Homo sapiens: one gene and its partners. Each later gene encodes a partner of the first gene's protein in a complex. Each region holds a gene or a part of one and is shown in the gene's direction. Other genes may lie near its edges. The genes, in order: F2, SERPINC1, SERPINE2 and SERPIND1.

Region 1 (7,303 bases):
AGCTGGGATTACAGGCACACACTACCATGCCCAGCTAATTTTTTGTATTTTTTAGTAGAGACGGGGTTTCACCATGTTGGCCAGGCTGGTCACAAACTCCTGACCTCAGGTGATCCACCAGCCTCAGCCTCCCAGAGTGCTGGGATTACAGGTGTAATCCACTGCGCCCAGCCTCATTTGTTAAATTACGTACTCAACAGACATTTTACAAAGTTCCTGCTACGTGCCAGGCACTATATCAGGTGCTGGGGATTTTAAGAGAATCAAATACAGTCTCTGCCTTCAAGGAATTCAAAATCTCAAAAGAGAACAAAAATACAAAATATTAAAATGATTGCGGCCGGGTGTGGTGGCTCAAGCCTGTAATCCTAGCACTTTGGGAGCTGAGGTGGGCGCCCAGGCCAGGGGTTTGAGACCATCCTGGCCAACATAGTGAAACCCCCAACCTCTACTAAAAATACAAAAATTAGCTGGGGTGTGGTGGCACGCGCCTGTAATCCTAGCTACTAGGGAGGCTGATGGGGGAGAATTTCTTGAATCTGGGAGGCAGAGGTTGCAGTGAGCTGAGATCATGCCACTGCACTTCAGTCTCGGCAACAGAACAAGACTCATCTCAAAATACATAAATAAAAATAAATAATTCAATAAAGTGATTGCAAGAAAAGTTCTGTTCAAGGCACCAAGAGACCACAGGAAAATGAGTGTCTGGTTTGCCAGAAAAATGAGAGATGGCTTCCCAGGAGAGGCAGAGTTCTGCCTGGCCTGGTGGGATGCATGGATGAACAAACAAGTGGGCATTCCAGTCAGAAGAAACAATCCGTGGAAAGACCCAGAGGCATGAGAAGCTGAGCTAGCAGGGACAGGTAGACCAGGGCCAGTTGAAAAGGACCTTCATCACTTTTTCATCCTGCTGGCCAAGAGAAGCCACAGAATGGAAGCTCCATGAGGGCAGGGCTGTGACTGTCCTATTGGTTGATGTGTACTGAGCACCCGACAGTGCCTGTCATATGGTAGGCACTTAGCGAATATTTGGAGGCCACTGTTGAGTGAATGGGAGAACTGCTGGTTGCAGAGGAAGAGGGGCTGGGTGAATGCAGGTTCAGGATTGTGGACCTGCATGAGCTGGGAGGTGGGGGATAGACAACTTTGCAGGGAGAGAGGAAATAAGTCCCCAGGCTCCAAGGCTGACCGGGGTGGGGTCTCCGCAGGTAACTGTGCTGAGGGTCTGGGTACGAACTACCGAGGGCATGTGAACATCACCCGGTCAGGCATTGAGTGCCAGCTATGGAGGAGTCGCTACCCACATAAGCCTGAGTGAGTGAGGGGCCGGCCTTCCCACCATGGGCTGAGAACAGGGAGCAAGCGTACCTCAAGCCCAACAGCCTCCTGTTGGGCAATTTCCTGTTCCAGAATCAACTCCACTACCCATCCTGGGGCCGACCTACAGGAGAATTTCTGCCGCAACCCCGACAGCAGCACCACGGGACCCTGGTGCTACACTACAGACCCCACCGTGAGGAGGCAGGAATGCAGCATCCCTGTCTGTGGTAAGCTGGGGGCAGTGGGGCGGCCCATGGCCAAGGCCCGGGGGCTTCATGGGGCCTGGCAGCCTGGGATGGGAACCAAGAATACTGGCTACCCAGGCACAGTGGCTCATGCCCGTAATCCCAGCACTTTGGGAGGCTGAGGCAGGCAGATCACCTGAGGTCAGGGGTTTGAGACCAGCTGGGCCAACATGGCAAAACCCCGTCTCTACTAAAAATACAAAAATTGCCAGGCGTGGTGGTGGGCGCCTGTAATCCCAACTACTCTGGAGGCTGAGGCACGAGAATCGCTTGAACCCGGGAGGCGGAGTTTGCAGTGAGCTGAGATCCTGCCACTGTACTTCAGCCTGGGCGACAAGAGCAAAACTCTGTCTCAAAGAAAAAAAAAAGATGCTGGCCACCTTCAGAGCTGGCGTCAGTCATTCAGATCATATCTGTGCCTATTGCTCAGTAAAGTCAGGGAATCAGGGGATCTGAGTGGGGGGATCTGCCAGCCTCCTCCTCCCCCTCCCCACTCTTGACTTCCTTATGGTCCAGGCTGTGGCTCATTCCAAACATGCCTCCTTTCTGATCAAGGCACTCCTCCCTCCGGGAAGCCCTCCCTAGCCATTTCAGTCCACACACCCTGTTCTGAGTATCACAGAGCAAGCCTTGTGCAGTTTGGCCCTGCGGGATTCTGTCATTATTATTTCCTTGGTGTGTTAAGTAGCTATAGCCACCCCTTCCCTGAGGCAGACCACAATAAGCATTTCTTTTTCCCATGAGGGTTGGCAGGTGTGGCTGCACTCGCTAATGCGTCTGTAGGGTCAACTGACGGAGGTTGGCCCTGGCTGGGTGGCTCTGATTCAAATAATGGGTCCAGCTGAGTCTGGCTCCTCGTTGAGGGTTGGGCCTAGATCTGCTCCACGTGCGTTCATGCTGGGGCTGAGGCTGAAAGAAGGTACCTGGGAAAACTCTTCTTATGCTGATGACAGACACAGAAAACAATGAACAGAAAAGCGTCTTCTGTCCTGAAGGCCTGGCTCAGAACAGGCACAGTCAGCCCTGCCCACGTTCCATTGGCCAGAGCAAGTATATGTTCAAGGCCAGGGTCAAGAGGTAAACTACACCTCAGCCTGTAAAATCACAGAGCAAGGGATGTGGATGCAGGCAGGGGTAAAGAATTTGTGCCGATTACCAGTCCACAAACATGGGTTAGTGTTTGTTCTCTAGGCATCCCTGTCGGGCCCATTGCTCATTCCTGGGGTTGGTCTTTTTTTTTTTTCTTTCTAAGATGGAGTCTCACTCCCTTGCCCAGGCTGTTGGAGTGCAGTGGCCCTATCTCAGCTCACTGCAACCTCCGCCTCCTGGGTTCAAGCGATTCCCCTGCTTCAGCCTCCTGAGTAGCTAGGATTACAGGCGTGTGCCACCACTCCTGGCTAATTTTTTTTTATGTTAGTAGAGACGGGGTTTCACCATGTTGGCCAGGCTGATCTCAAACTCCTGACCTTGTGATCCTCCCGCCTCGGCCTCCCAAACTGCTGAGATTACAGGGGTGAGGCACTGCGCCCGGCCTTTTTTTTTTTTTTTTTTGAGATGGAGTCTCACTCTGTCACCCAGGCTGGAGTGCAGTGGCATAATCTTGGCTCACTGCAACCTCCACCTCCTGGGTTCAGGCGATTCTCTGCCTCAGCCTCTCATATAGCTGGGATTACAGGCACACGCCACCACGCCTGGCTAATTTTTGTATTTTTAGTAGAGACGGGGTTTCTTCATGTTGGCCTGGCTGATCTTGAACTCCTGACCTCCGGTGATCTGCCCAGCTCGGCCTCCCAAAGTTCTGGGATTACAGGTGTAAGCCACTGCGCCTGGCCCCTGGAATTGGTCTTATAGCAAGTTTATCCCAACAAAAACAGCTACTATTTACTCCCCAACCCCCATACACACGCACACACATTGATGATAAATAAGTTGCAGGCTTGCAGAAATTGACCCATCCAGGTGAACAGCCTAGTGATCCCAGCAAGCGTCCTGCTGTGCAGCTATAAAAACATGACTCCTCCAGCAGCTCCAGGCAGCCACTACCAGTTAATTACAGATGGCCTAGGAGGCCAAACCTGGTTACTATCTCTGGTTTATTATGTGCCAGACACTTATGCTGTATATTTTGTTTAATCCTCTCAACAAACCTGCAAAAGTGGCATTAGTAACCCCTTTAAAGGCAAACGGTCAGAAGCCCAGAGAGGTTAAGTAACCTGAGGTCACACAGGCAGAAAGCAGCAAGACCGGGGTTCACACCCCTGTCTGTTCCGGTCCATGTGTGGTCTCACTCACTCTGCTGCCTCCTTGCCCCTCACCCACCAGGCCAGGATCAAGTCACTGTAGCGATGACTCCACGCTCCGAAGGCTCCAGTGTGAATCTGTCACCTCCATTGGAGCAGTGTGTCCCTGATCGGGGGCAGCAGTACCAGGGGCGCCTGGCGGTGACCACACATGGGCTCCCCTGCCTGGCCTGGGCCAGCGCACAGGCCAAGGCCCTGAGCAAGCACCAGGACTTCAACTCAGCTGTGCAGCTGGTGGAGAACTTCTGCCGCAACCCAGACGGGGATGAGGAGGGCGTGTGGTGCTATGTGGCCGGGAAGCCTGGCGACTTTGGGTACTGCGACCTCAACTATTGTGGTGAGCTGCCTGGGTAGGGGGCCTGAGTTGCAGGGACAAATCCTGGTGGGAATAACAACAGCCGCTTCTGCTTATCGAACGCTTACCTCATTGAGTGCGCTCATTACAGCCTTACAGTAACCAGGTGGGGGGTAAGGTCCTGTGCCCATTTCACAGATAAGTACACTGAGGCCCCAGGAGGTTATTGCCTAGTAGCCCAACTGTGCATGCACGCTTAACCTCTGCACCAAATGGCCTCCAAGGCCCGTAGGGGAATTGGGGGGATCTAGGGGATGGGTGAGGAATGGCCCAGCCCAGTCCCAGCCGGTGCCTGGGTCCCAACAGAGGAGGCCGTGGAGGAGGAGACAGGAGATGGGCTGGATGAGGACTCAGACAGGGCCATCGAAGGGCGTACCGCCACCAGTGAGTACCAGACTTTCTTCAATCCGAGGACCTTTGGCTCGGGAGAGGCAGGTGAGGTAGTGGGCATCCGAGGGGATGCGGGGCTGCGGGGCTGGTGGCCAGGACTTGCCCCTCACTGCTTGGCTTGCTCTGCAGACTGTGGGCTGCGACCTCTGTTCGAGAAGAAGTCGCTGGAGGACAAAACCGAAAGAGAGCTCCTGGAATCCTACATCGACGGGCGCATTGTGGAGGGCTCGGATGCAGAGATCGGCATGTCACCTTGGTGTGTCCTGGAGCCCTGCGCTACCATTCACTCCTGGGGGCAGGTGTGCTGCTGGACCCCCACCCTCAGGCCCTGCCTGCAGGCCTGGGCTTTACAGATGACAACAGCTGAGCATCCAGGATCCCACCAACTCCACACAGCAGCCACATGAGATGGGTTGTTTACTTCTTTTTTTTTGTTTCTTAGATGGAGTCTTGCTCTGTCACCTAGGCTGGAGTGCAGTGCTGCAATCTCGGCTCACTACCTCGATCTCAGCTCACTGCAACTTCTGCCTTCCGGGTTCAAACGATTCTCTTGCCTCAGCCTCCTGAGTAGCTGAATTTACAGACATGCGCCACCACACCCGGCTAATTTTTGTATTTTAAGTAGAGACAGGGTTTCACCATGTTGGCCAGGCTGGTCTTGAACTCCTGACCTCAAGTGATCCACCTGCCTCAGCCTCCCAAAGTGCCGGGATTACAGGCATGAGCCACCACACCCGGCCCATGGGTCCTTTACTTCTAAGCAGATGGTAAAGCTGAGACTGACGGAGCTGGTGGCTCACCTCCGCGCACAGCTAATGGGTTTGAATCCAGTTCTTCTGATTCCAGAGCTGTGCTACGCTATGTGAACTCTGGACTGGAAGGACCTAGTTAGGGGGTGCAAAAAGCAGGAGGCAGGTCAGGTGCAGTGGCTCACCCCTGTAATCCCAGCACTTTGGGAGGCCAAGACAGGAAGATCACTTGAGGGCAGGAGTTCGAGGCCAGCCTGGGCAAAATGGTAAAACCCCGTCTCTACTAAAAATGCAAAAATTAGCCAGGTGTAGCAGCATGTCCCTGTAGTCCCAGCTACTAAGGAGGCTGAGGCGGGAGGATCGCCTGAGCCCAGGAGGCTGAGGCTTCAGTAAGCTGTGACTGTACCATTGCACTCCAGCCTGGGTGACAAGAGTGAGACCCTGTCTCAAAAATAAATAAATAAATAAATAAAAAAGTGTGAGGCAGCCCCTCAGCATCACACGGAGGCTCCAGGCCCCAAAGGCGGCCAGCCCAAGCTTGGATCTGGGCCCCGGAGGCAGCTCTGCCCAGCTGGGTTCTTAGACCTGGGATTGTTACTTCTAGGGCTGGTGTAGAGGCAGCCCCCTCATCCTCAGCTCCTAATGCTTCCTGCTGCCCCTCCCAGGCAGGTGATGCTTTTCCGGAAGAGTCCCCAGGAGCTGCTGTGTGGGGCCAGCCTCATCAGTGACCGCTGGGTCCTCACCGCCGCCCACTGCCTCCTGTACCCGCCCTGGGACAAGAACTTCACCGAGAATGACCTTCTGGTGCGCATTGGCAAGCACTCCCGCACCAGGTACAGAACTGGTGGCCCGTGGGTGTCTGGCAGGGGTCTGAGTCCTCCAAAGCGATCATGAGGGGCCCTGGTGGCTCCGGGACACATAGGATGTTCTGTATACCCCCCAGAATATAACATCCCAGCAGTCTCTGCTGGAAAGCCCATTTGGTCACGTCCTGACTGAGGCTTGGAGCTGCGGGGAGAAATCCGTCTGTCTCCTGGTCCCTCCAACACTAGGATATAGCCCATGTGGGAGTCTCTGAAAATAGAGTCTGTCTGGACTAGGGCGTGCAGCCTGTGCCCCTGTCCCCGTCCTCCAGGCTGTCTGACTCCAAAGCCCTGCACGGCTTTAGGCCCAGGAAGAAACACCCAGGGGGCTGCCATGGCAGGAACCAGCCCTATCCCCTCCCTGGTGGCCTGCAGGACACACTGTCTCCCAGACCCCAAGGGCAGGCAGTTTCCTGCTCCTTGCTGGGTGAACCTGCAGCTTCTCCATTTCTTTCTTGGGGTCTCTGCAGGTACGAGCGAAACATTGAAAAGATATCCATGTTGGAAAAGATCTACATCCACCCCAGGTACAACTGGCGGGAGAACCTGGACCGGGACATTGCCCTGATGAAGCTGAAGAAGCCTGTTGCCTTCAGTGACTACATTCACCCTGTGTGTCTGCCCGACAGGGAGACGGCAGCCAGGTGGGCCACCAGATGCTTGTTAGCTGAGGGGCAGAAGCCAAGTTCTGGGCCTGGCTCTGATACCAAGTAGCCTTGCAAGAGCCCCTTTCCCTTTTCCAGGCCTCGGTTTCTTGGAGTGAACCCAAAAGTTCTTTTCAGTACTGGCGTTTTATTTTTTATTTATATTTATTTATTTACTGACGGAGTTCCACTCTTGTCTCCCAGGCTGGAGTGTAGTTGTGCGATCTTGGCTCACTGCAACCCCACCTCCTGGGTTCAAGCGACTCTCCTGCCTCAGTCTCCTGAGTAGCTGGGATTACAGGCTAATTTTTGTATTTTTAGTAGAGACTGGTGGGTTTCACCGTGTCGGCCAGGTTGGTCTCGAACCCCTGACCTCAAGTGATTCACCCGCCTCGGCCTCCCAAAGTGCCGAGACCACAGGCGTGAACGTCTGTGCC
Region 2 (7,015 bases), on another chromosome or scaffold:
TAAATCCTGGTTTCCTCTTTTGAGCACCTTAAAATGGGGGAAGGCTTGTATCTTCTCTCAACTTCTTTTCAGTAATTCTTTCATCTATATGTTTACTCATTAATTTGATCATTTATTTATTTATTCATTCAGCACTTCCTCTGTGCCAGGCAATGTGTAGTGCCAGTCCCTCCTCTGGTGGAAGAAGAGTAGCTTTACCATATGGTGACATCAGGCATATAGGCTCTCGTGGAAAAAAATTCTAGGATAGTATTTTTTTTTTTTTGAGATGGAATCTCGCTCTATTGCCCAGGCTGGAGTGCAGTGGTGCAGTCTCGGCTCACTCCAAACTCTGCCTCCCAGGTTCAAGCAATTCTCCCACCTCAGCCTCCTGAGTAGATGGGATTACAGGCACACGCCATCACGCCCAGCTAATTTCTATATTTTTAGTAGAGATGGGGTTTCACCACGTGGCCAGACTGGTCTCAAACTTTTTTTTTTTTTTTTTTGAGACGGAGTCTCGCTCTGTCATCCAGGCTGGAGCGCAGTGGCACGATCTCAGCTCACTGCAACCTCTACCTCCCGGGTTCAAGCAATTCTCAGCCTCAGCCTCCCGAGTAGCTGGGATTACAGGCCCCCGGCACCATGCCTGGCTAATTTTTTTTCTTCTTAGTAGAGATGGGGTTTCACCATGTTGGCCAGGCTAGTCTTGAACTCCTGACCTCGTGATCCACCTGCCTTGGCCTCCCAAAGTGCTGTGATTACAGGCGTAAGCCACCGCGCCTGGCCTCAAACTCTTGACTTCAAGGGATCGGCCTGACTTGGCTTCCCAAAGTGCTGGGATTACAAGCATGAGCCACTGCACGGGGCCTAGGATGGTATATTGAGACCAGGGGCCCAGGAAAGCCAAGAGAAGCCTCAAGGACGTGAGAGTGTTTTCTGGCTCTGGGAAGTATGGATCATTTCAGCTCAGTGACTTAGTTCCCACCCCCTTCCCCCCACTGCCTTTTGTGGGAGGGAAGTAGGGCATGATAAGATGAAATGTCATAGATTGATTGATCACTGTTGGCCTCTGGGGCTATGACAAGTCATGGATGGAAACACTAGATCTTTAATCTGTCCTTGGCTTGGCTGCATGACAGTCTTTCTTCAAGTTGGATCACACTTTGGAAGCAGAGTTCATCAATAGGGAGGCATGAGTCCCTTCAAGATGGTATACGGTGCTTATTTGAAACTTGGACACTAAAGTCTGTGGGTCTTAGGAGGGTTCCTTCTATTCTAGTGGTCAATTTCCATGGAACTTCATCACCTTTGCTCAGGGCTCTGGGGTGAGTTAACCCAAGTCTTCACTCTTTGAAAGAAATTGTAGATTTAAAAACTCTGAAGACACATAATACTGCCTTCTCTGGGCCCTTCAGTCATTTTTGTATACATTGGTACTGGTCTCAAAGTACTTCCATATCACTCATGTCTCTGTCCCCAGGTAAGATCTTAAATGTAACCCTTCCTACAAGAAGAACAGAACAGAACACTGCTTCCAAACCACACATGTTCCTTTGGTCCTCCCCTCTACACAAACGCCATGTGTTGGGAAAGCAGGGTGAGACTGAATCTCTCTGGAGAAAAGAGAGATTCAGCACCAAGCTTTTGATCAAAAGCATAATCCCCCCCTAAAAAAAGTGCCTATTGGAGCAAAATCAGGAAAACCAAAGGCAGAGAACAGATAAAACCAAAAGGCCTTTTGTAGCCTGAGGAGAGAGCATGGAAAGGGCAGGAGGGGAACAGCCTCACCCATTTTGCCTTGGGGATGGTGAAGGTGGGCATTGGGGGATTCCAACTTCAAAGCATGGATGACTTCTAAGTCCTTTTCAGCCCTGAGCTCTTAGATTCTGAGCCTGTTTAATCCCTTGCTGATAGATTCACTCTTCCTTTTTCACCCCTACCACCAGTATCCCAGAGCCTCCATGAGCAGCTGGCCCCAGTAGATGCCACAAAAGTGTTTGTTACGAGAAGGACACCGTCCTGATTCTCTTCTCTGTCCAGAATCACCAAGAGGACTTTTCCCATTCCAGCAAGAAAACGTCTGTGTGTTGATCTAGAGGCGTTTAGAGACTTTAGGTGGCAACCTAGTCTCTCTTTTTCCCTTTATCCTTCCTACCCTTCATTCTTCTTTTATCCTTTTATTCATCAGAACACAAGAGTTGAGCATTTATGCTGTCCCAGGTACTGTGCTTGAAGGAGTTAACAACTGAGGTGGCTATTAGTCAGAGACTGACCAGCATGTGCTCACCACCCATGTTAACTAGGCAGCCCACCAAACCCACCACCATTTTTTTTTGACTTCTATAGGTATTTAAGTTTGACACCATATCTGAGAAAACATCTGATCAGATCCACTTCTTCTTTGCCAAACTGAACTGCCGACTCTATCGAAAAGCCAACAAATCCTCCAAGTTAGTATCAGCCAATCGCCTTTTTGGAGACAAATCCCTTACCTTCAATGAGACCTACCAGGACATCAGTGAGTTGGTATATGGAGCCAAGCTCCAGCCCCTGGACTTCAAGGTGAGTTGCAGATGTTACCCCTGACCTCCGAGTTCTTCCTCTCCACTCAGAGATTGAGGAGGTGGAGAAACAGCATCCAAATTCACACTGCTTTGCTGCTGAAGACTGCTGGAGGGCTGACTAAAAGTTAGAACCCCTGCAATAGTTATTCTTACTTGAAACCTGAGAAATCAAAGGTATCCATGCTTGGATTGTAGTGACTGCCCAGAAAACATGAATTAATAATCAATTCTTCATTCCATCCACCAACTTCAAATATATACCAAAGGGTGTTTTGAAGATGCCAGTTCTACAAGATATCTTACTTAATTTGAACTGTTATCATGGTCAAATAAAGTTGGTACATGATGCATGTTACATTCTCCTCTTGGAGATTCATGAAGCACATGGGCCTATGAAGGTTCTGAGAAACTCTGCAACAAAGAAATCTGTTGGCTTTATTCAATCGGCATTCCTCAAATGTATTTGACTGCATGGGCATTTCTCTCCTCCATATAACCTGCCAACCCCATATAACCTGCCAACCCCATATAACCTGCAATCATTCATTGCTTCCCCTGGCACATGCCTTGGAAATTCTACTTTTGTGAGTTAAGGTTTTCCAAAGTCAGAGAAAATAATATTTTATCTTCTTTTTCCCAGACTATTTTCGCCTTCCTTCTTTTCATTTATTTCTTCCTATTTCTTTTTGTTCTTTTTCTTCTGATAATATTTATTAACTACAGGAAAGATTCATGGAACTATATTAGATATGTGAGGCTTCCCCAATTTGGGTTAGAGCAATGGCTTCTTAATCAAATGGTGGGAAAGGACAGAGGGATGGTGAGAAAAATAAAATGCTGCCTGGGAAAATGGAGAAGCCAATTGAATAGCACAGGTGAGTAGGTTTATTTTCTGTTCTCCTCAGGAAAATGCAGAGCAATCCAGAGCGGCCATCAACAAATGGGTGTCCAATAAGACCGAAGGCCGAATCACCGATGTCATTCCCTCGGAAGCCATCAATGAGCTCACTGTTCTGGTGCTGGTTAACACCATTTACTTCAAGGTACTCAGAATGGCCCTGGAGAGACCCCAGGGACTTCCTCTTGCTCTTCAGCTTACCCCCTTTTTTTTTAAATGGCGAGACCGAAGCCCTGAGAGGGCAAATGGACTGCCGAAAGCTACACAGGTACAGGTCAGCAGGGCAGGTCAATCTATTATTTATTTATTTATTTATTTTTGACAGAGTCTCGCTCTGTCGCCCAGGCTGGAGTGCAGTGGCGTGATCTCGGCTCACTGCAAGCTTCGCCTCCTGGGTTCACGGCATTCTCCTGCCTCAGCCTCCCAAGTAGCTGGGAATACAGGCACCCACCACCATGCCTGGCTAATTTTTTGGTTTTTTTTTAGTAAAGACGGGGTTTCACCGTGTTAGCCAGGATAGTCTTGATCTCCTGACCTCGTGATCTGCCCACCTCGGCCTCCCAAAGTGCTGGGATTACAGGCATGAGCCACCGCGCCCGGCAGATTGGCTTCTTTCACCTAGTAAAATGCATTTACTGTTCCTTTGTGTTTTCGTGGCTTTGTCACTCATTTCTTCTTAGCATGGAATAGCATTACATTTGGTCTGGATGTACCACAGTCTGTCTATTCATCTACTGAAGGACATTTTGGCTGCTTCCAAGGTTTGACAGTTATGAATAAACCTACTCATAATTCCATCATTCTGACACAGCCATTGTTAACCTTTTTGTGCATATCCCGCCAGTCTTTTTTCCGAATAATTATATATTAATGTAACACTATAATATGGATATGTCTTGTGTCAATAACTATCCTCCTATGAATGTTTGTGTTCTTACTTTGTGATTCTCTTCCAGGGCCTGTGGAAGTCAAAGTTCAGCCCTGAGAACACAAGGAAGGAACTGTTCTACAAGGCTGATGGAGAGTCGTGTTCAGCATCTATGATGTACCAGGAAGGCAAGTTCCGTTATCGGCGCGTGGCTGAAGGCACCCAGGTGCTTGAGTTGCCCTTCAAAGGTGATGACATCACCATGGTCCTCATCTTGCCCAAGCCTGAGAAGAGCCTGGCCAAGGTAGAGAAGGAACTCACCCCAGAGGTGCTGCAAGAGTGGCTGGATGAATTGGAGGAGATGATGCTGGTGGTCCACATGCCCCGCTTCCGCATTGAGGACGGCTTCAGTTTGAAGGAGCAGCTGCAAGACATGGGCCTTGTCGATCTGTTCAGCCCTGAAAAGTCCAAACTCCCAGGTTTGTCTAGGAAGGAGTTTCCTCCCTTCTCCACCCGCAAGGTAGTCTGACCAAAAGTGGAAGAGTTGGAGAAAGAATAGAAAGGAGCAACAAGTCAGGACTCCTGGATACTGATCCTAGTTTCTACTGCTAATTTGTGGAAATCTCTTTTCCTTTTGAGACCTCAGTTTCCTCTTCTGTAAAAGGGAAGTTTGTTCTTGGATCTCCATGGGCCCAGCTAGCACTGGTGCCCTGTGAGTCTGTATCAGGTAGAGGAGATGGGACCAGGTGGAGAGGAATTTGAAAGGGCATTGGAATTCAGAGCAAAGAGACAGATATTAAGAGCTGGGGAAATGTGGTTCCCATTACACAGGCCTCACTGACATTTATTATTATTATTATTATTACTTGAGACAGAGTCTTACTCTGTTGCCCAGGCTGGAGTGCAGCGGTGCGATCTCGGCTCACTGCAACCTCTGCCTCCCGGGTTCAAGCGATTCTCATGCCTCAGCCTCCTGAGTAGCTGGGATTACAGGCACACGTCACCATACCTGGTAATTTCTGTATTCTTAGTAGAGATGGGTTTCACCATGTTGGCCAGGATGGTCTTGAACTCTTGACCTTGTGATCCGCCTGCCTTGGCTTCCCAAAGTGCTGGGATTACAGGCGTCAGCCACCGCACCTGGCACATTAAAATATCTTTTAAAGAAGTTGGCTGGCCAGGGTGGCTCACGCCTGTAATACCAGCACTTTGGGAGGCTGAGGTGGGAGGATCGTCTAAGCCCATGAGTTCGAGACCAGCCTGGACAACATAGTGAGATGGTCTCTACAAAAAATAAAAAAAATTAGCCAGGCATGGTGACGCACACCTGTAGTCCTAGCTTCTTGGGAGGCAGAGCTGGGAGGATTGCCTGAGTCCGGGAGGTCAACGCTGTGGTGTACTGTGATCACACCACTGCACTCCAGCCTGAGCAACAGAGTGAGGTCCTATCACTAAATAAATAAATAAATAATAAAATAAGTTTACGATGTTAAGTAATTAGATTTATCTTTATTGACCTTTTTTTTTTTTTTTTTTTTTTGAGACGAAGTCTTGCTCTTGTCCCCCAGGCTGGAGTGCAGTGGTGCAATCTTGGCTCACTGCAACCTCCACCCCCCAGATTCAAGTGATTCTCCTGCCTCAGCCTCCCAAGGAGCTAGGATTACAGGCGCCTGCCACCACGCCCGGCTAATTTTTGCATTTTTAGTAGAAACGGGGTTTCACTATGTTGGCCAGGCTGGTCTTGAACTCCTGACCTCAGGCGATCTACCTGCCTTGGCCTCCCAAAGTGCTGGGATTACAGGCGTGAGCCACTGTGCTATTGGGCTGTCTTTAAGCTAGTTTTGAAAACTAAAAATGTTGCCAGACTGGAAAGAAAGATGTTCCTTCTGGATGGAGTGAGTTTTTTCTGTAAGAACAGAGTCTTGCCGTTTCTCTCTCCCACAAAAAGCTGAAGCCTGAGAATGAATTATCAGGAGCCATGCTGAACAAGCCCAAAGTACTTTTATTATTATTATTATTATTATTATTATTATTATTATTATTATTTTTGAGATGCAGTTTTGCTCTTGTTGCCCAGGCTGGAGTGCAGTGGCGTGATCTTGGCTCACTGCAACCTCCACCTCCCGAGTTCAAGCGATTCTCCTGCCTCAGTCTTCCAAGTAGCTGGGATTACAGGCATGCGCCACCACACCTGGCTAATTTTTGTATTTTCACGATAGAGACAAGGTTTCACCATATTAGTTAGAGTGTCTCCAACTCCTGACCTCAGGTGATCTGTACACCTTGGCCTCCCGAAGTGCTGGGATTACAGGTGTGAGCCACTGCACCCAGCCCCCAAAGTACTTTATTATTTTTAACACATATTCATTGTGAGAGTATGATTAGGTGAAGATTTAGGATTTCTTCTTATGTTTCAAAAAGCCCCAAAGGATCTCTTAATCCAAACTGAATTCCCATCTGTGGGTTGAAGCCAACTTTCTCCCATCTCACAAAGACTTCTCCGGTCTTCCTTCCAGGTATTGTTGCAGAAGGCCGAGATGACCTCTATGTCTCAGATGCATTCCATAAGGCATTTCTTGAGGTGAGTACACCTTCCCCACTCTCTTAGGGTACAGAAAGGAGATGCATGAACAGCAGGAACACGTGGAAAAGGCCTGTTTCCAGTGTTAAGGCATGCAAAAGGCCTCCACAGGCCTGCTATAA
Region 3 (6,045 bases), on another chromosome or scaffold:
AGGGTCAGAAAACCTCCATGTTTCTCATATCTTGCAAAAAGCAAAAATTGAAGTCAGTGAAGATGGAACCAAAGCTTCAGCAGCAACAAGTAAGCACTGGGTCACGTGGCAGGGCTTCCTCTAGCAGGGGAGCAAACACATTCCTGTATACTCATTGGTTGAGCAAATATGTAATGCACCCTCTTTCCAGCCAGGCAGTGTGTGTGGGTTAACCCTCAGGAGACAGCAGTGAGTACAGACAGACTGAAGACCTGTAACCACAAAGCTCAGAATCTGTTTCATTAAAGAAAAGCATTTCAGTGAGAGAAATTCCTCTAGGACAGGAGTCAGCAAACTTCTATAAAGAGCCAGGTAGTATGTATTTCAGATTTGTGTGTCATACCATCTCCATTACAGCTTCTTAGCTCTTTCACTGTAGCATGAAAACAGCAATCAACAATACAAGTAAACAGATGTGGCTGTGTTCCAATAAAACTTTATTTATAAAAACAGGATTTGTCCTGGTAGACTTGCCTTGAGGAAAATAGTTTGCTGACCCCTGCTCTCAGGAGGATAAAACATGTTCTGGCTTCTTACTGGCAAAAAAGACCAATCTTCAGATTTGAACATAAAATAAACAACAAGTACTTAAAGGAAAATAGGCAATCAGGTCTATCCAGGATAAACCGAAGAATTCGCCAGCATCTGTTGAATTGCGGCAGGATTGCTGTACAGCCTTCCTTGATAATTAGAACATCCACATCTGCTTCCTCCTCAGTGGTTTACATAATGAAGGAGAAAACAGAACAATCGTAAGTCAGTTTTTTCACCCCTCATTATCCGTAGGAAAATAGATGAATAGATTTGGCCAACTCTGTGAGCCCATAAAGTGAAAATCTTAGCTACACTTGCAGCTGGGTCAAATATCTCTGGTCATTGAAACATACCAGTTATACTCACAATAGATGTGTTATTGCCTTTCTCGAATAAACGTTTTAAAAATTCCTTTAAAGAAGCATTTAAAACAAAGACCCTGAAATAAGAGGGTTGGAAATTTTAAGATGCTTTTTGTCTTTTCTAGGTAATTTTAAGTAACATCTAAAAGTTATTGACCAGTTTTGCTGAGTGTAACTATCAGGACCAGCTACATAGTTTGTGGGGTCCTGTGCCAAATGAAAATATGGAGCCCCTTGTTCAAAATGTATAAGAATTTCAAGATAGCAACAGCAGAGTATTAAACCCAGTGCAGGGCCCCATGTAACCGCCCAGGTCCTCCTGTCTTAGTCCGCCTGGGCTGCCATGACAAAATACCGTTGACTGAGTGGTTTAAACAACAGAACTCACACTTCTGGAGGCTGCGAGTTCAAGATCAAGGTGTTGGTGTTGGCAGGTTTGTTTCTCCTGAGATCTCTGGATCTCCGGAGGTCGCCCCCTCCCTGTGTCCTCACATGGTCTTTTCTCCATGTGACACATCCCTGGTGTCTCTCCCACTTCAAATAAGGGCAACGGTCCTATTAGAATAGAACCCTACTTAACCTTCATTACCTCCTCAAAGGCATTATCTCCAAATACAGTTACGTTAGGGGTTTGGGGCTTCAGCATATGAATTTGGGGGGAGACACATTTCAGTCCATAACACCTGCTATTTAATATTTGTTTTTAATAACCCTGGGTAAAAGGGCTTGCCCCAGCATAACTGCAGCTGTTTCCTTTATAACATCAAGCCCAAGTGTTCAATACTTCATGGGGTTTGAGCAAGAGGACTGAGCTATTGCAACAGGCATGTGGTAGTAATGCCACACACCTACCCTCCCGTGAGGCCCTGGTTCAGGCTTATTAAATGGAAACAAGCCTGGCAGACGAGGAATGGCCAAGACCCATGAGGCTAAAGAAGTTTGCTTTCCAAGTCAGATGCCTACACCTGGTGAGTGGAACAGCAGTATAAGGTAGTAGGTCCCGGATGAGTGGTCTACATTCCAGTGCAGAGGAAACCTAAATAATGTGCCAAAGGAGAAGGCACAGACACAAAAGCTAAGAATTGGACTGGGCCTTTATATACAGAAAAGATTTAGAGAAGCTAAACAGGACCAGGGGTCGGGCGCGGTGGCTCATGCCTGTAATGCCCGCACTTTGGGAGGCTGAGGCAGGTGGATCACTTGAGGTCAGGAGTTCAAAACCAGCGTGACCAACATAGTGAAACCCTGTCTCTAAAAATACAAAAATTAGCCAGGCGTGGTGGTGCATGCCTGTAATCCCAGCTACTCAGGAGGCTGAGGCAGGAGAATCGCTTGAACCCGGGAGGCAAAGGTTGCAGTGAGCCAAGATCGCGCCACTGCACTCCAGCCTGGGTGACAGAGTGAGACTCCATCCCCAAAAAAAAGGACTGGGGGCTTTATCAGCAAAGCAGATGGTGTGAATAAAAAATAGCTAATAACAATAAATATGCATTAGATGTGTTTAGTGGCAAACACTGTTCTAAGAGCTATAATATATCTTATGTCATTTAATTATGTCATTTAATTCTCATCAAAACTCTATGAGGAGTAAGTATGTTTATCAGAGATGGTGCTTGTGTAGAAGACATGAGAGAGTAATGTAAAGGGCCTGGCCCAAGGTAGGCTTAGTAAATGGTGACCATTGAGCCTGTTGTAACATGGCCAGCCTATGGAACAAGCATGAAGTGTGTCTTCAGACACCAGCCTCTGAGGGTCCATGAAGCTAGCTAACTTGCTGGCCTTATGCTTACATGGTCTCATGTAATGTGCACAACACATTTTCCTTTTCTTCCCGTAGCTGCAATTCTCATTGCAAGATCATCGCCTCCCTGGTTTATAGTAGACAGACCTTTTCTGTTTTTCATCCGACATAATCCTACAGGTAAGTGACTCTCCTCTTCCATCATGCCCTCTCTGTTAGAATTTCAAAAGGTATATTGCACTCTTCATTATATCCAACAGTGGTGCCCATAGTCCATTTCCCTAATGTCAATAGTTGCAGACACTTTGAATAATATAACCACCCATGTTAAAGAGATAGGAAAATAAAGGCTGTGTTTACAGATGTGATGGAATCTTTTACACACTGACAGGATTTTAGGTTTTGCGGATTGTTGTTTTTAACAGAGAGGCTCAGCATCCCTTTGGAACACTTTTGACATCTATTGACTTTTCCATATTTATATAAATGTGGTGGTTCAATTTTGCTAGAAGCTATATAACTTCAACTTTTGTGTATTAGTCTGTTCTCACCCTGCTATGAAGAAATACCCTAGAGTGGGTAATTTACAAGGAAAAAGAGGTTTAATTGACTCACAGTTTCACATGGCTAGGGAAGCCTCAGGAACCTCACAATTACGGTGGAAGGCATCACTTCACAGGGCAGCAGGGGAGAGAATGAGAGCCGAGTGAAGTGGGAAACCCCTTATAAAACCATCAGATCTCATGAGAACTCACTCACTATCACAAGAACAGTATGGGGGAAACTGCTCCTATGATTCAGTTTTCTCCACCTGGTCCTGCCCTTGATATATGGGGATTATTAACAATTCGAGGCAAGATTTGAGTGGAGACACAGAGCCAAACCATACCACTTTGTAAGCCCACTCTATTGTTATACCTTGGGAATTGTTAATACAGTAGATTTTTGCTCTGTGAGTCATGGTTCAAACTTGGCTCTGGCCTTAAGCCTCATCTTTAAAATGAGGACAACAGTAGTGCTGACTGCTTATTACAATTATGAAGTATAAGTTCATCTTTGTAGAGAGGTTGGCTTCTTGTTGGTACAAGAGTAGGCACTAATATATTTTAGCTTTTACTATTTTATTTAATCAGTAATATGAGATAGTTCCTTATTCTCTTATCTCATTGCATCTGTGATGTTCTAATTGGCATGCCCCAGAACTGAGCCAGCCAATGAGGAGCTTCTGGCCACATGTGGCTATTTAACATTAACTTTAAAAATTCAATTTCTGGTTGGGTGCGGTGGCTTATGCCTGTAATCCCAGCACTTTGGGAGGCCAAGGCGGGTGGATCACCTGAGGTCAGGAGTTCGAGACCAGCCTGGCCAACATGGCAAAACCCCATCTCTGTTAGAAATACAAAAAATTGGCTGGCAGTGGTGGTGGGTGCCTGTAATCCCAGCTACTTGGGAGGCTGAGGCAGGAGAATTGCTTGAACCCAGGAGGCGGAAATTGCAGTGAGCCGAGATGGCGCCATTGTACTCCAGCCTGGGTGACAGTGCAAGACTCTGTCTCAAGAAATAAAAAATAAAATTAAAATTCAACTTCTAAGTCACACTAGCCACATTTTAAGCACTCTCTGGCCACATGTGACTAGTGGCTACCATGCTAGACAACAAAGATATAGACCATCTCTACCACTGCAGAAAGTTATACTGGACACTACTGAGCAAGAGGTCAAACATGATTGTTTCCCTTCCCTTAAATAGAATACCTTCCATCTTATTTTAAGGATTATTAATTTACAGAGTCATGCATTGTTTTCTTTTAATTCTGTAGGTGCTGTGTTATTCATGGGGCAGATAAACAAACCCTGAAGAGTATACAAAAGAAACCATGCAAAGCAACGACTACTTTGCTACGAAGAAAGACTCCTTTCCTGCATCTTTCATAGTTCTGTTAAATATTTTTGTACATCGCTTCTTTTTCAAAACTAGTTCTTAGGAACAGACTCGATGCAAGTGTTTCTGTTCTGGGAGGTATTGGAGGGAAAAAACAAGCAGGATGGCTGGAACACTGTACTGAGGAATGAATAGAAAGGCTTCCAGATGTCTAAAAGATTCTTTAAACTACTGAACTGTTACCTAGGTTAACAACCCTGTTGAGTATTTGCTGTTTGTCCAGTTCAGGAATTTTTGTTTTGTTTTGTCTATATGTGCGGCTTTTCAGAAGAAATTTAATCAGTGTGACAGAAAAAAAAATGTTTTATGGTAGCTTTTACTTTTTATGAAAAAAAAATTATTTGCCTTTTAAATTCTTTTCCCCCATCCCCCTCCAAAGTCTTGATAGCAAGCGTTATTTTGGTGGTAGAAACGGTGAAATCTCTAGCCTCTTTGTGTTTTTGTTGTTGTTGTTGTTGTTGTTTTATATAATGCATGTATTCACTAAAATAAAATTTAAAAAACTCCTGTCTTGCTAGACAAGGTTGCTGTTGTGCAGTGTGCCTGTCACTACTGGTCTGTACTCCTTGGATTTGCATTTTTGTATTTTGTACAAAGTAAAAATAAACTGTTATGAGTAGTAAAAATAAAGCTATTTCTCTGCTATTTGAAAATACAATAGAAGAAACTGAGCCTTTTAGACATTCGTCAGCCTCTTCTAATAAACCTTTGTACTATGTAAACATCAGGAAATTCAAAGCTCGGAGACTTTTCCTATTCTTTTCCTCTAGACCTGACAATCAAACACTTCCCCGCTTCAACACATCTCATTTTCTAGATCACTTCAACAGAGTAACTATTACAGTAATCCTAGTTCTACTCTTAGCTACATTCACTCCAGCAATGGCTAAGAATTCTCAGCAAAGAAACGGATTTTGTAGCAAGTGCCGAATGAAGTTGCTGGGTACCATGTATTTTGGAACTCCTGGGGGAACAGGAACTGTTTCGTTTTTGGTGATGATAGGCAGGAGTGTTTTTGAAATGACAGGGTTTTTTTGTTTGTTTTTTGTTTTTTTTTTGTTTTTTTCAAGGTAACTTTCCAAGTTGAACTCAAACATCATAATTCTTTTTTTCCTTTTTCTTTTTACAGAGACATGCCTCGCCATCTTGCCTAGGCTAGTCTTGAACTCCTGACCTCAAGTGATCCACCTGCCTCAGCCCCACAAAGTGCTGGGATTACAGGCATGAGCCACTGGCATTCAGCTTACAAATATCATAATTCTGATTTTACCATTTGCCTGCTTTTTAAAAAACTAATTTCTTAAAGATTTATGCAGTCTAAGCTAAATCAGAATTTAAGTTTAAAACATTTATCAAAACTTAAAAACATTTTTTTATTTTTAGCCCTTGAGTTCTACTTGCCTTAAACTATACATTAAAACCTCACAT
Region 4 (7,000 bases), on another chromosome or scaffold:
CGTGATCACGGCTCACTGCAGACTCAAGTGATCCTCCTACTTCAGCCTCTCAAGTAGATGGGACCACAGGCGTGTGCCATCACACCAGGCTAATTATTTTTCTTTTCTTTTTTTTTTTTTTGAGACGGAGTTTCGCTCTTTTTGCCCAGGCTGGAGTGCAATGGTGCGATCTTGGCTCACCACAACCTCTGCCTCCTGAATTCAAACGAATCTCCTGCCTCAGCCTCCTAAGTATCTGGGATTACAGGCATGCGCCACCACGCCGGCTAATTTTTTTGTATTTTTTGTAGAGACAGGGTTTCTCCATGTTGGCCAGGCTGGTCTCGAACTCCCGACCTCAGATGATCCGCCCACCTCGGCCTCCCAAAGTGCTGGGATTACTGACCTGAGCCACCGCACCCAGCCTATTTATTTAATTTTTCACAGAGATGAGGTCTTGCTATGTTGCCCACACTGGTCTTGAGCTCCTGGGCTCAAGTGATCTTCCTGCCTTGGTCTCCCAGTGTTGGGATTATAGGCGTAAGCCACAGCGCCTGGCCGGCAGTTCTTTCTGGGGTGATTAGAAGTTGGGACCATGTATTACCTGTCTGAGTCAGCATTATAAACACCTATGGTCACTGTCCTGGCAAAACATGGAATCATCAAAGCTCATCTAACCAGAGTGCAGTTAATAACCAGGAAGTAAGCAAGAGAAAGACAAAGGATTTGGCAGTCAAAACAGATTTGACAGGCCAAGTCAGATCCTCCTCTGAACGAGTCAGAGGAACAAATAAAGACAGGATTGCCATAATGCCTCTGTGCTAAAAGCTTATCTTGTTTACTTAAATAAAGGGAGTGCCCCTCAGGTCTTGAGTAAGAGCTTGCTGACATCACCCTCACACAGACTTTATCTCTTGTTTCTAACCCTGTGTTAGAAGCAGTAACACAGAAGATTTAGTTGCTCCTGACAGCAGTGGGAGCTATTGTCTAAGAGATACAAAGGAGAAAAAAGTATACCTGCAGCAAGTGATATCACCTCTGGGGCTGCCACCACATCACCTCACTACGCCCTGAGGGGGTCTCAGCACTAGACAAGTTCCAAATCTTTTGCAAATTAAACAACCCCAGGTCAGGCGTGGTGGCTTATGCCTGTAATCCCAGCACTTTGGGGGGCTGAGGTGGGTGGATCACCTGAGGTCAGGAGTTTGAGACCAGCCTGGCCAACAGAGCAAAACCCCATCTCTACTAAACAAAATACAAAAATTAACCAGGCGTAGTGGTGTGCACCTGTAGTCCCAGCTACTTGGGAGGCTGAGGCAAGAGAATTGCTTGAGTCCAGGAGGCCGAAGTTGCAGTAAGCCGAGATCGCGCCACTGCACTCCAGCCTGGGTGACAGAGTGAGACTCCATTTCAAAAAATAAAAACAACAAAAGCCAATTACAACAACAACAACAAAAAAACAACGAATTAAACAACCCCAAAGATTGCACAAATTTCAAGTATCTTTAGAATATGTTTTCAGAAAGCCTGGCCCATGGACATTTTTCAACAGCATCTCCATTGCAAAGGTGGAATGGTGTGAGTCACACAGGCATGGCTGAGTCCCACTAATGCACATCCCTTCTAGGTACTCTCCAATCACCAGCCCCAGGTGCCCACTCAAGCCCAGCTCTTAGTGAGGTTTCCCTGACTCTCTGGGCACTTCCACTCCTACCACACAGGGTAGAGCCACACCCCTTTCCGTACCCCCATGTGCTCTGGCAGCATTATTTTGAGAGCCTTCGCTTTACTGCACGTCTGTCCCATCTGTCCCCTGACTGGTCCATGAGCCCCTGGTGGGAACTTTGTCTCTGGTAACTAAACACTGTCTGGAGGTGGTGGACAAGGTGTCTGGAGAAAAACAAACTCCTCCCTGGGATGCCTGAGCTCCCAGGATTCTAGAAGGTTAGTTTTGCAAACCTTTAAAGAAGGGATTTTCATCAAGGGGCCCACAGATCCTTCATTGAGGTTTATGAGTCCCACATCAAAGGTTGGGTGTCTATCTACATCAGATTCTCTTAAAGTCCATGATCCTAAAACAGTTAAGAACTAATGCTGTGAGGGCCTCTTCCTGGGTCAAAGCCACAGGGAACCTGCCATGTGGATGCTGCAGCGGGGTGTGGATCAGCCAGGCCGCCTTTCACTGTGTTCTGTTTTCCCTCCCAGCTTTAGCTCCGCCAAAATGAAACACTCATTAAACGCACTTCTCATTTTCCTCATCATAACATCTGCGTGGGGTGGGAGCAAAGGCCCGCTGGATCAGCTAGAGAAAGGAGGGGAAACTGCTCAGTCTGCAGATCCCCAGTGGGAGCAGTTAAATAACAAAAACCTGAGCATGCCTCTTCTCCCTGCCGACTTCCACAAGGAAAACACCGTCACCAACGACTGGATTCCAGAGGGGGAGGAGGACGACGACTATCTGGACCTGGAGAAGATATTCAGTGAAGACGACGACTACATCGACATCGTCGACAGTCTGTCAGTTTCCCCGACAGACTCTGATGTGAGTGCTGGGAACATCCTCCAGCTTTTTCATGGCAAGAGCCGGATCCAGCGTCTTAACATCCTCAACGCCAAGTTCGCTTTCAACCTCTACCGAGTGCTGAAAGACCAGGTCAACACTTTCGATAACATCTTCATAGCACCCGTTGGCATTTCTACTGCGATGGGTATGATTTCCTTAGGTCTGAAGGGAGAGACCCATGAACAAGTGCACTCGATTTTGCATTTTAAAGACTTTGTTAATGCCAGCAGCAAGTATGAAATCACGACCATTCATAATCTCTTCCGTAAGCTGACTCATCGCCTCTTCAGGAGGAATTTTGGGTACACACTGCGGTCAGTCAATGACCTTTATATCCAGAAGCAGTTTCCAATCCTGCTTGACTTCAAAACTAAAGTAAGAGAGTATTACTTTGCTGAGGCCCAGATAGCTGACTTCTCAGACCCTGCCTTCATATCAAAAACCAACAACCACATCATGAAGCTCACCAAGGGCCTCATAAAAGATGCTCTGGAGAATATAGACCCTGCTACCCAGATGATGATTCTCAACTGCATCTACTTCAAAGGTAAGAGGCACCTTTACAGTTCTCACAGCAAACCCACAACATACTATTTTTGTATGTGGGTAGATTGAATGCCAAGAACTGTACTGTAGCTATAATTTATCCAGGAAAACTAGACACAAGATTGACTCTGGAACGGGGACAGGGAAGGCCAAGCTGAAGTGACAGTAGCATCTGACACTTACTGAGCCCTAACTCTGTGCTTTAACACAGCCTTGTGAGGTCATCACTGTTATTAGCATCCCCATTTTACAGAGGAAGCCACCAACACATGAAGTAAAAGGATGGGCTGGGCGCGGTGGCTCACGCCTGTAATCCCAGCACTTTGGGAGGCCGAGGCAGGCAGATCACTTGAGGTCAGGAGTTCGAGATCAGCCTGACCAACAGACCAACATGGTGAAAACCTGGCTCTACTAAAAATACAAAAATTAGCTGGGCCTGGCGGTGGGTGCCTGTACTCCCAGCTACTTGGGAGGCTGAGGCAGGAGAATCACTTGAACCTGGAAGGCAGAGATTGCAGTGAGCCGAGACTGTGCCACTGCACTCTAGCCTGGACGACAGAGTGAGACTCCATCTCAAAAAAAAAAAAAAAAGAAGTAAAACGATGCTCCAAGGGCACCCAGTTATTAAGGGGCAGAGCCAAAGCTGAACCCAGGGAGGCCAACCCTAGCAATCTGTTAAATTGGAAGAAATAATACAAAAACTGTTTTAGCATTTGGCCAGCCTGGATTTGAGTTTTCTCTTTTCCTTTCCCAATTATCAATAAGCAGGAATATAGACAAAAGGCTAAAGAAATGCACCTGTGAACTATTCAGCTTGAGCAGCTGACATTGACACCTACAAGTGCTTTTCAGGATACTTTTGAACTACTGGGCAGGTGGGATGGAGAAATAAATTACTATTTCCCCAGCAACTGTTCTGGGCTGAGCACAAGGGCACTTTTTAAGGAGGTCACCCCACACCCATCACACACACATAGGACCCCTGGAATCCTAGGAATAAATAAGCATGGATTTGTAAAATCCAAACCTCTCTTTTCAAATATCCTCACCTGGACCAGACCAGAAGAAACCTCTACTTTACTCTCTAAGCTGAGAGTGTGGAAGGGGAAACACGAGGAATGGTTCGGCTTCAGGACTAATTGCGGTGACACACAACCACTTCTCTTTGCCACCAAGGACTACCAGGTACCTGCAAAGGGCAGTACTTGGAGGCCAGTGCTTTCTGCTAGTTAGCTCCCGTGGTTTTATAGCAGCCCAGGCGAAGGAAGGAGACCCCCCCCAGCTCCTGGCTTCTGTTCAGGGAAAGGGGGCCAGAGCCCCTCCTGATCTGTCCACACACCTGCTCTGTGCCTTGGCTGAGGCCCCTGCAGCTCTACAAGGCAGGCATTCTGCTGGATAGGCCAAGCAGGGTCACTCTGACACCCAGGTTTCCACCCCAAGGCATGGCACAATGCTGGCCTCCTGTGGGTGGAATCAAAGGCTGAGTTCTAACAGGCTTGCGGCAGACACACACACAGAGACCACATGTACATGATGAACACACATATCCTTTTCATTACAGGTTATTAGTACAAGTTTTGGAATTGAGCAAACAAGAGTCTAAGCGCTGGTTTCACCACTTCTCGTTTGTGTGACCTCAGACAAGTCATTCAACATCTCTATGACTCAGTTTCCTTATCTTTATCACAGAGATGACACCCACTCTGACAGGGCCGAGGGAAGAACCATAAGCGATGGCAATGCAACAGAGTGGCACATGACAAGAGCTCAGCGAATTTGAGGGAATGAAACTGTAGATTACAATACTAGTACAATATGATAAACATATGATATTGTTAGTGACATTTATTTTACTTCTACTAGCAAATAACCTATGTTTAGGACTGACTTTAGAACAGGCTGGCAGAAGCATTTTTGGCAGCATCAAAGTCCTCCAACCTACTGGTCTGTTGGAGCCCCCCAAGTACACCAAAGAGCCTCTGCATTAGCCCTGGCTGAGGGTTCAGGGACAGGCAGAGAAGTACAGCAGTGAGCCATCCCTGCCTGCATGGAGGTGGAGAAATGATCAGGCATGGTCAGTTGACAATCTCCTAAACACAGTAACCCGTGTCATACCACAGTGTAAACACACGTGCAAATGCTTCTGCTTCCTTTCCCCATCATGAGAATAGTCACTCAATGCCGGGCATCACAAGGGATCAAATGCTAGGAGTACCCAATCATTCATGGATGCTTCTCAAAGGGGACGAGTGTCTAGAAGTGTAATTTTAATTTCACTTAATTTCATATGGAATCATCTCCATTACTAATTTTGTTCTAATTTTAATGTGATAATCACTTTGTAAAGCACAATAAACAGAGGCAGGCTCTCATGAGGAAGTCAGAAGGAAAGAATCCCAAGAGACATGGGACAGCTCCATCCAAACTGAAAGGGCCGTGATTCCCAAAAGAGCAATTTTGTCCCCAAGGTCTGAAGACACTTTTGGTTGTCACAACCTGGGGGGTTGGAGTAAGCATTACTGGTATCTAGAAGGGGGAGGCTGGGGATGTTGCTAAACACCCTACCATGCACAGGGCAGCCCACATTGCCACAAACTATTATGTGGCCCAAATGTCAAAAATGCTGAGGTTGAGAAACCCTGGGTGAGGCAGACTCAGGGAGAAGGGAATCGAGCTTCACTCACAGGCAGGCAGGAGCTGTCTGGTACTTCAACCTCCAAGACACCTCCTGCTCATCTCATCCTGGCTGCTCTACCCACCAGCTAGAAACCTTGAACAAGTTACTTCACTTCTTTGTGCCTCTGTTTCCTCATATGTAAAAGAGGGATAACAAAACGCACACAACTTGCATGTTGCTAGGAGCAGAAATGAGATAATACAGGAAAGGTGCTGAGAAGAATGCCCGGCACATGGCCAGTTCTCAACTACTAGTCACCCATTACTATTAGTTACTCACATCTTAGAGCTAACATAGACATGGGCTTATTCCTGGATACACAGCACTGTCCCCATATCTACAGTGGTGATCCTAAGGGCAACATGGCATCACCCAAATGTCTTGTTAGTCACTACAGAATCACAGTGTGAGGGATGAAGGCCATCAAGACAGAGCTGAGGCTGGCAGGGTGGCTCATGCCTATAATCCCAGTGCTTTGGAAGGCTGAGGCAGGAGGATTGCTTGAGGCCAAGGGTTTGAGACCAGCCTAGGTAACATAGCAAGACCCCATCTACAATTAAAAAAAAAAAAAAAAAGACAGAAAGAAAAAATAGCCAGGCGTGGCATGTGCTTGTAGTCCAAGCTACTGGGGAGGGAGGCTGAGGCAGGAGGATTCCTTGAGCCTGGGAGTGTGAGGCTGCAGTGAGCTATGATGGCATCGCCGCACTCCAGCCTGCATGACACAGTGAGACCTGGTCTCAAAAACCAAATAATAATAACAGTAATAAAAGCTGGAAAGAGCTCAAAGTTACTCATTTGACAGATGTGACAGATGAAGAAATAGAAGCGAGTTAGGTGCCTTACCATGGTCAAACAACTAGTTCGTATCAGACCCTACTCCAGAAACTATTCCAGTCCGGGTAACCTCTCGTTAACCTCTCTTGTTAGAAATGCAAATTTCTGCCCAAATCAGGCCTCAGGAATCAAGAGACTGTGGGGTCGGCTCTGCAGGCTATCTGAATGAGGCCTCCAGGGAAATCAGATTCACTCTCAAGGGTGAGACGATTTCCCTAAAGGAACCTTCTCATAACAGCCTCTTCCTGTGGCCTTTACAGGATCCTGGGTGAATAAATTCCCAGTGGAAATGACACACAACCACAACTTCCGGCTGAATGAGAGAGAGGTAGTTAAGGTTTCCATGATGCAGACCAAGGGGAACTTCCTCGCAGCAAATGACCAGGAGCTGGACTGCGACA

The links.
Region 2: the proteins of F2 (region 1) and SERPINC1 are in contact, whole or in part, in a crystal structure (PDB 1TB6), measured with the Homo sapiens proteins. Residues at the interface, in NP_000497.1 of Homo sapiens: Leu389 (codon at 6,059), Leu390 (codon at 6,062), Cys391 (codon at 6,065), His406 (codon at 6,110), Cys407 (codon at 6,113), Tyr410 (codon at 6,122), Pro412 (codon at 6,128), Trp413 (codon at 6,131), Asp414 (codon at 6,134), Lys415 (codon at 6,137), Trp455 (codon at 6,757), Arg456 (codon at 6,760), Glu457 (codon at 6,763), Asn458 (codon at 6,766), Leu459 (codon at 6,769), Asn506, Thr510, Trp511, Thr512, Ala513, Asn514, Val515, Gln519, Arg541, Ile542, Asp562, Ala563, Cys564, Glu565, Gly566; in NP_000479.1 of Homo sapiens: Lys258 (codon at 4,410), Glu264 (codon at 4,428), Asn265 (codon at 4,431), Arg267 (codon at 4,437), Tyr285 (codon at 4,491), Glu287 (codon at 4,497), Gly288 (codon at 4,500), Lys289 (codon at 4,503), Glu345 (codon at 4,671), Met347 (codon at 4,677), His351 (codon at 4,689), Ala419, Val420, Val421, Ile422, Ala423, Gly424, Arg425, Ser426, Leu427, Asn428, Pro429, Asn430, Arg431, Val432, Lys435.
Region 3: the proteins of F2 (region 1) and SERPINE2 are in contact, whole or in part, in a crystal structure (PDB 4DY7), measured with the Homo sapiens proteins. Residues at the interface, in NP_000497.1 of Homo sapiens: His406 (codon at 6,110), Tyr410 (codon at 6,122), Pro412 (codon at 6,128), Trp413 (codon at 6,131), Trp455 (codon at 6,757), Arg456 (codon at 6,760), Glu457 (codon at 6,763), Asn458 (codon at 6,766), Leu459 (codon at 6,769), Glu509, Thr510, Ile542, Asp562, Ala563, Cys564, Glu565, Trp590, Gly591, Glu592, Gly593, Cys594; in NP_006207.1 of Homo sapiens: Val225, Arg288, Ser355, Ala356, Thr358, Thr359, Ala360, Leu362, Ile363, Ala364, Arg365, Ser366, Ser367.
Region 4: the proteins of F2 (region 1) and SERPIND1 are in contact, whole or in part, in a crystal structure (PDB 1JMO), measured with the Homo sapiens proteins. Residues at the interface, in NP_000497.1 of Homo sapiens: Lys384 (codon at 6,044), Ser385 (codon at 6,047), Pro386 (codon at 6,050), Gln387 (codon at 6,053), Leu389 (codon at 6,059), Leu390 (codon at 6,062), Cys391 (codon at 6,065), His406 (codon at 6,110), Cys407 (codon at 6,113), Tyr410 (codon at 6,122), Pro412 (codon at 6,128), Trp413 (codon at 6,131), Asp414 (codon at 6,134), Lys415 (codon at 6,137), Leu423 (codon at 6,161), Arg425 (codon at 6,167), Ser430 (codon at 6,182), Thr432 (codon at 6,188), Arg433 (codon at 6,191), Tyr434 (codon at 6,694), Lys440 (codon at 6,712), Ile441 (codon at 6,715), Ser442 (codon at 6,718), Met443 (codon at 6,721), Asn458 (codon at 6,766), Leu459 (codon at 6,769), Lys470 (codon at 6,802), Trp511, Ala513, Asn514; in NP_000176.2 of Homo sapiens: Glu75 (codon at 2,423), Asp76 (codon at 2,426), Asp77 (codon at 2,429), Asp78 (codon at 2,432), Tyr79 (codon at 2,435), Leu80 (codon at 2,438), Leu82 (codon at 2,444), Ile85 (codon at 2,453), Phe86 (codon at 2,456), Asp89 (codon at 2,465), Asp91 (codon at 2,471), Val305 (codon at 6,883), Glu306 (codon at 6,886), Met307 (codon at 6,889), Thr308 (codon at 6,892), His309 (codon at 6,895), Gln327 (codon at 6,949), Asp343 (codon at 6,997), His361, Lys362, Arg388, Thr457, Val458, Gly459, Phe460, Met461, Pro462, Leu463, Ser464, Thr465.

Annotation. Positions count from the first base shown.
Region 1 is NC_000011.10:46,721,972-46,729,274, forward strand, and holds part of F2 (prothrombin preproprotein), read left to right. Parts: intron 1-1,208; coding exon 1,209-1,314; intron 1,315-1,410; coding exon 1,411-1,547; intron 1,548-3,887; coding exon 3,888-4,202; intron 4,203-4,526; coding exon 4,527-4,655; intron 4,656-4,739; coding exon 4,740-4,866; intron 4,867-6,024; coding exon 6,025-6,192; intron 6,193-6,692; coding exon 6,693-6,866; intron 6,867-7,303. UniProt on the Homo sapiens protein: Thrombin, which cleaves bonds after Arg and Lys, converts fibrinogen to fibrin and activates factors V, VII, VIII, XIII, and, in complex with thrombomodulin, protein C. Functions in blood homeostasis, inflammation and wound healing.
Region 2 is NC_000001.11:173,907,328-173,914,342, reverse strand, and holds part of SERPINC1 (antithrombin-III isoform 1 precursor), read left to right. Parts: intron 1-2,328; coding exon 2,329-2,544; intron 2,545-3,451; coding exon 3,452-3,589; coding exon of another isoform or gene 3,590-3,712; intron 3,713-4,400; coding exon 4,401-4,791; intron 4,792-6,828; coding exon 6,829-6,893; intron 6,894-7,015. UniProt on the Homo sapiens protein: Most important serine protease inhibitor in plasma that regulates the blood coagulation cascade. AT-III inhibits thrombin, matriptase-3/TMPRSS7, as well as factors IXa, Xa and XIa. Its inhibitory activity is greatly enhanced in the presence of heparin.
Region 3 is NC_000002.12:223,974,355-223,980,399, reverse strand, and holds the end of SERPINE2 (glia-derived nexin isoform b precursor), read left to right. Parts: coding exon of another isoform or gene 1-2; coding exon 3-89; intron 90-2,772; coding exon 2,773-2,856; intron 2,857-4,495; coding exon 4,496-4,533; 3' UTR 4,534-5,355; downstream 5,356-6,045. UniProt on the Homo sapiens protein: Serine protease inhibitor with activity toward thrombin, trypsin, and urokinase. Promotes neurite extension by inhibiting thrombin. Binds heparin.
Region 4 is NC_000022.11:20,777,113-20,784,112, forward strand, and holds part of SERPIND1 (heparin cofactor 2 precursor), read left to right. Parts: intron 1-2,184; 5' UTR 2,185-2,200; coding exon 2,201-3,089; intron 3,090-6,859; coding exon 6,860-7,000. UniProt on the Homo sapiens protein: Thrombin inhibitor activated by the glycosaminoglycans, heparin or dermatan sulfate. In the presence of the latter, HC-II becomes the predominant thrombin inhibitor in place of antithrombin III (AT-III).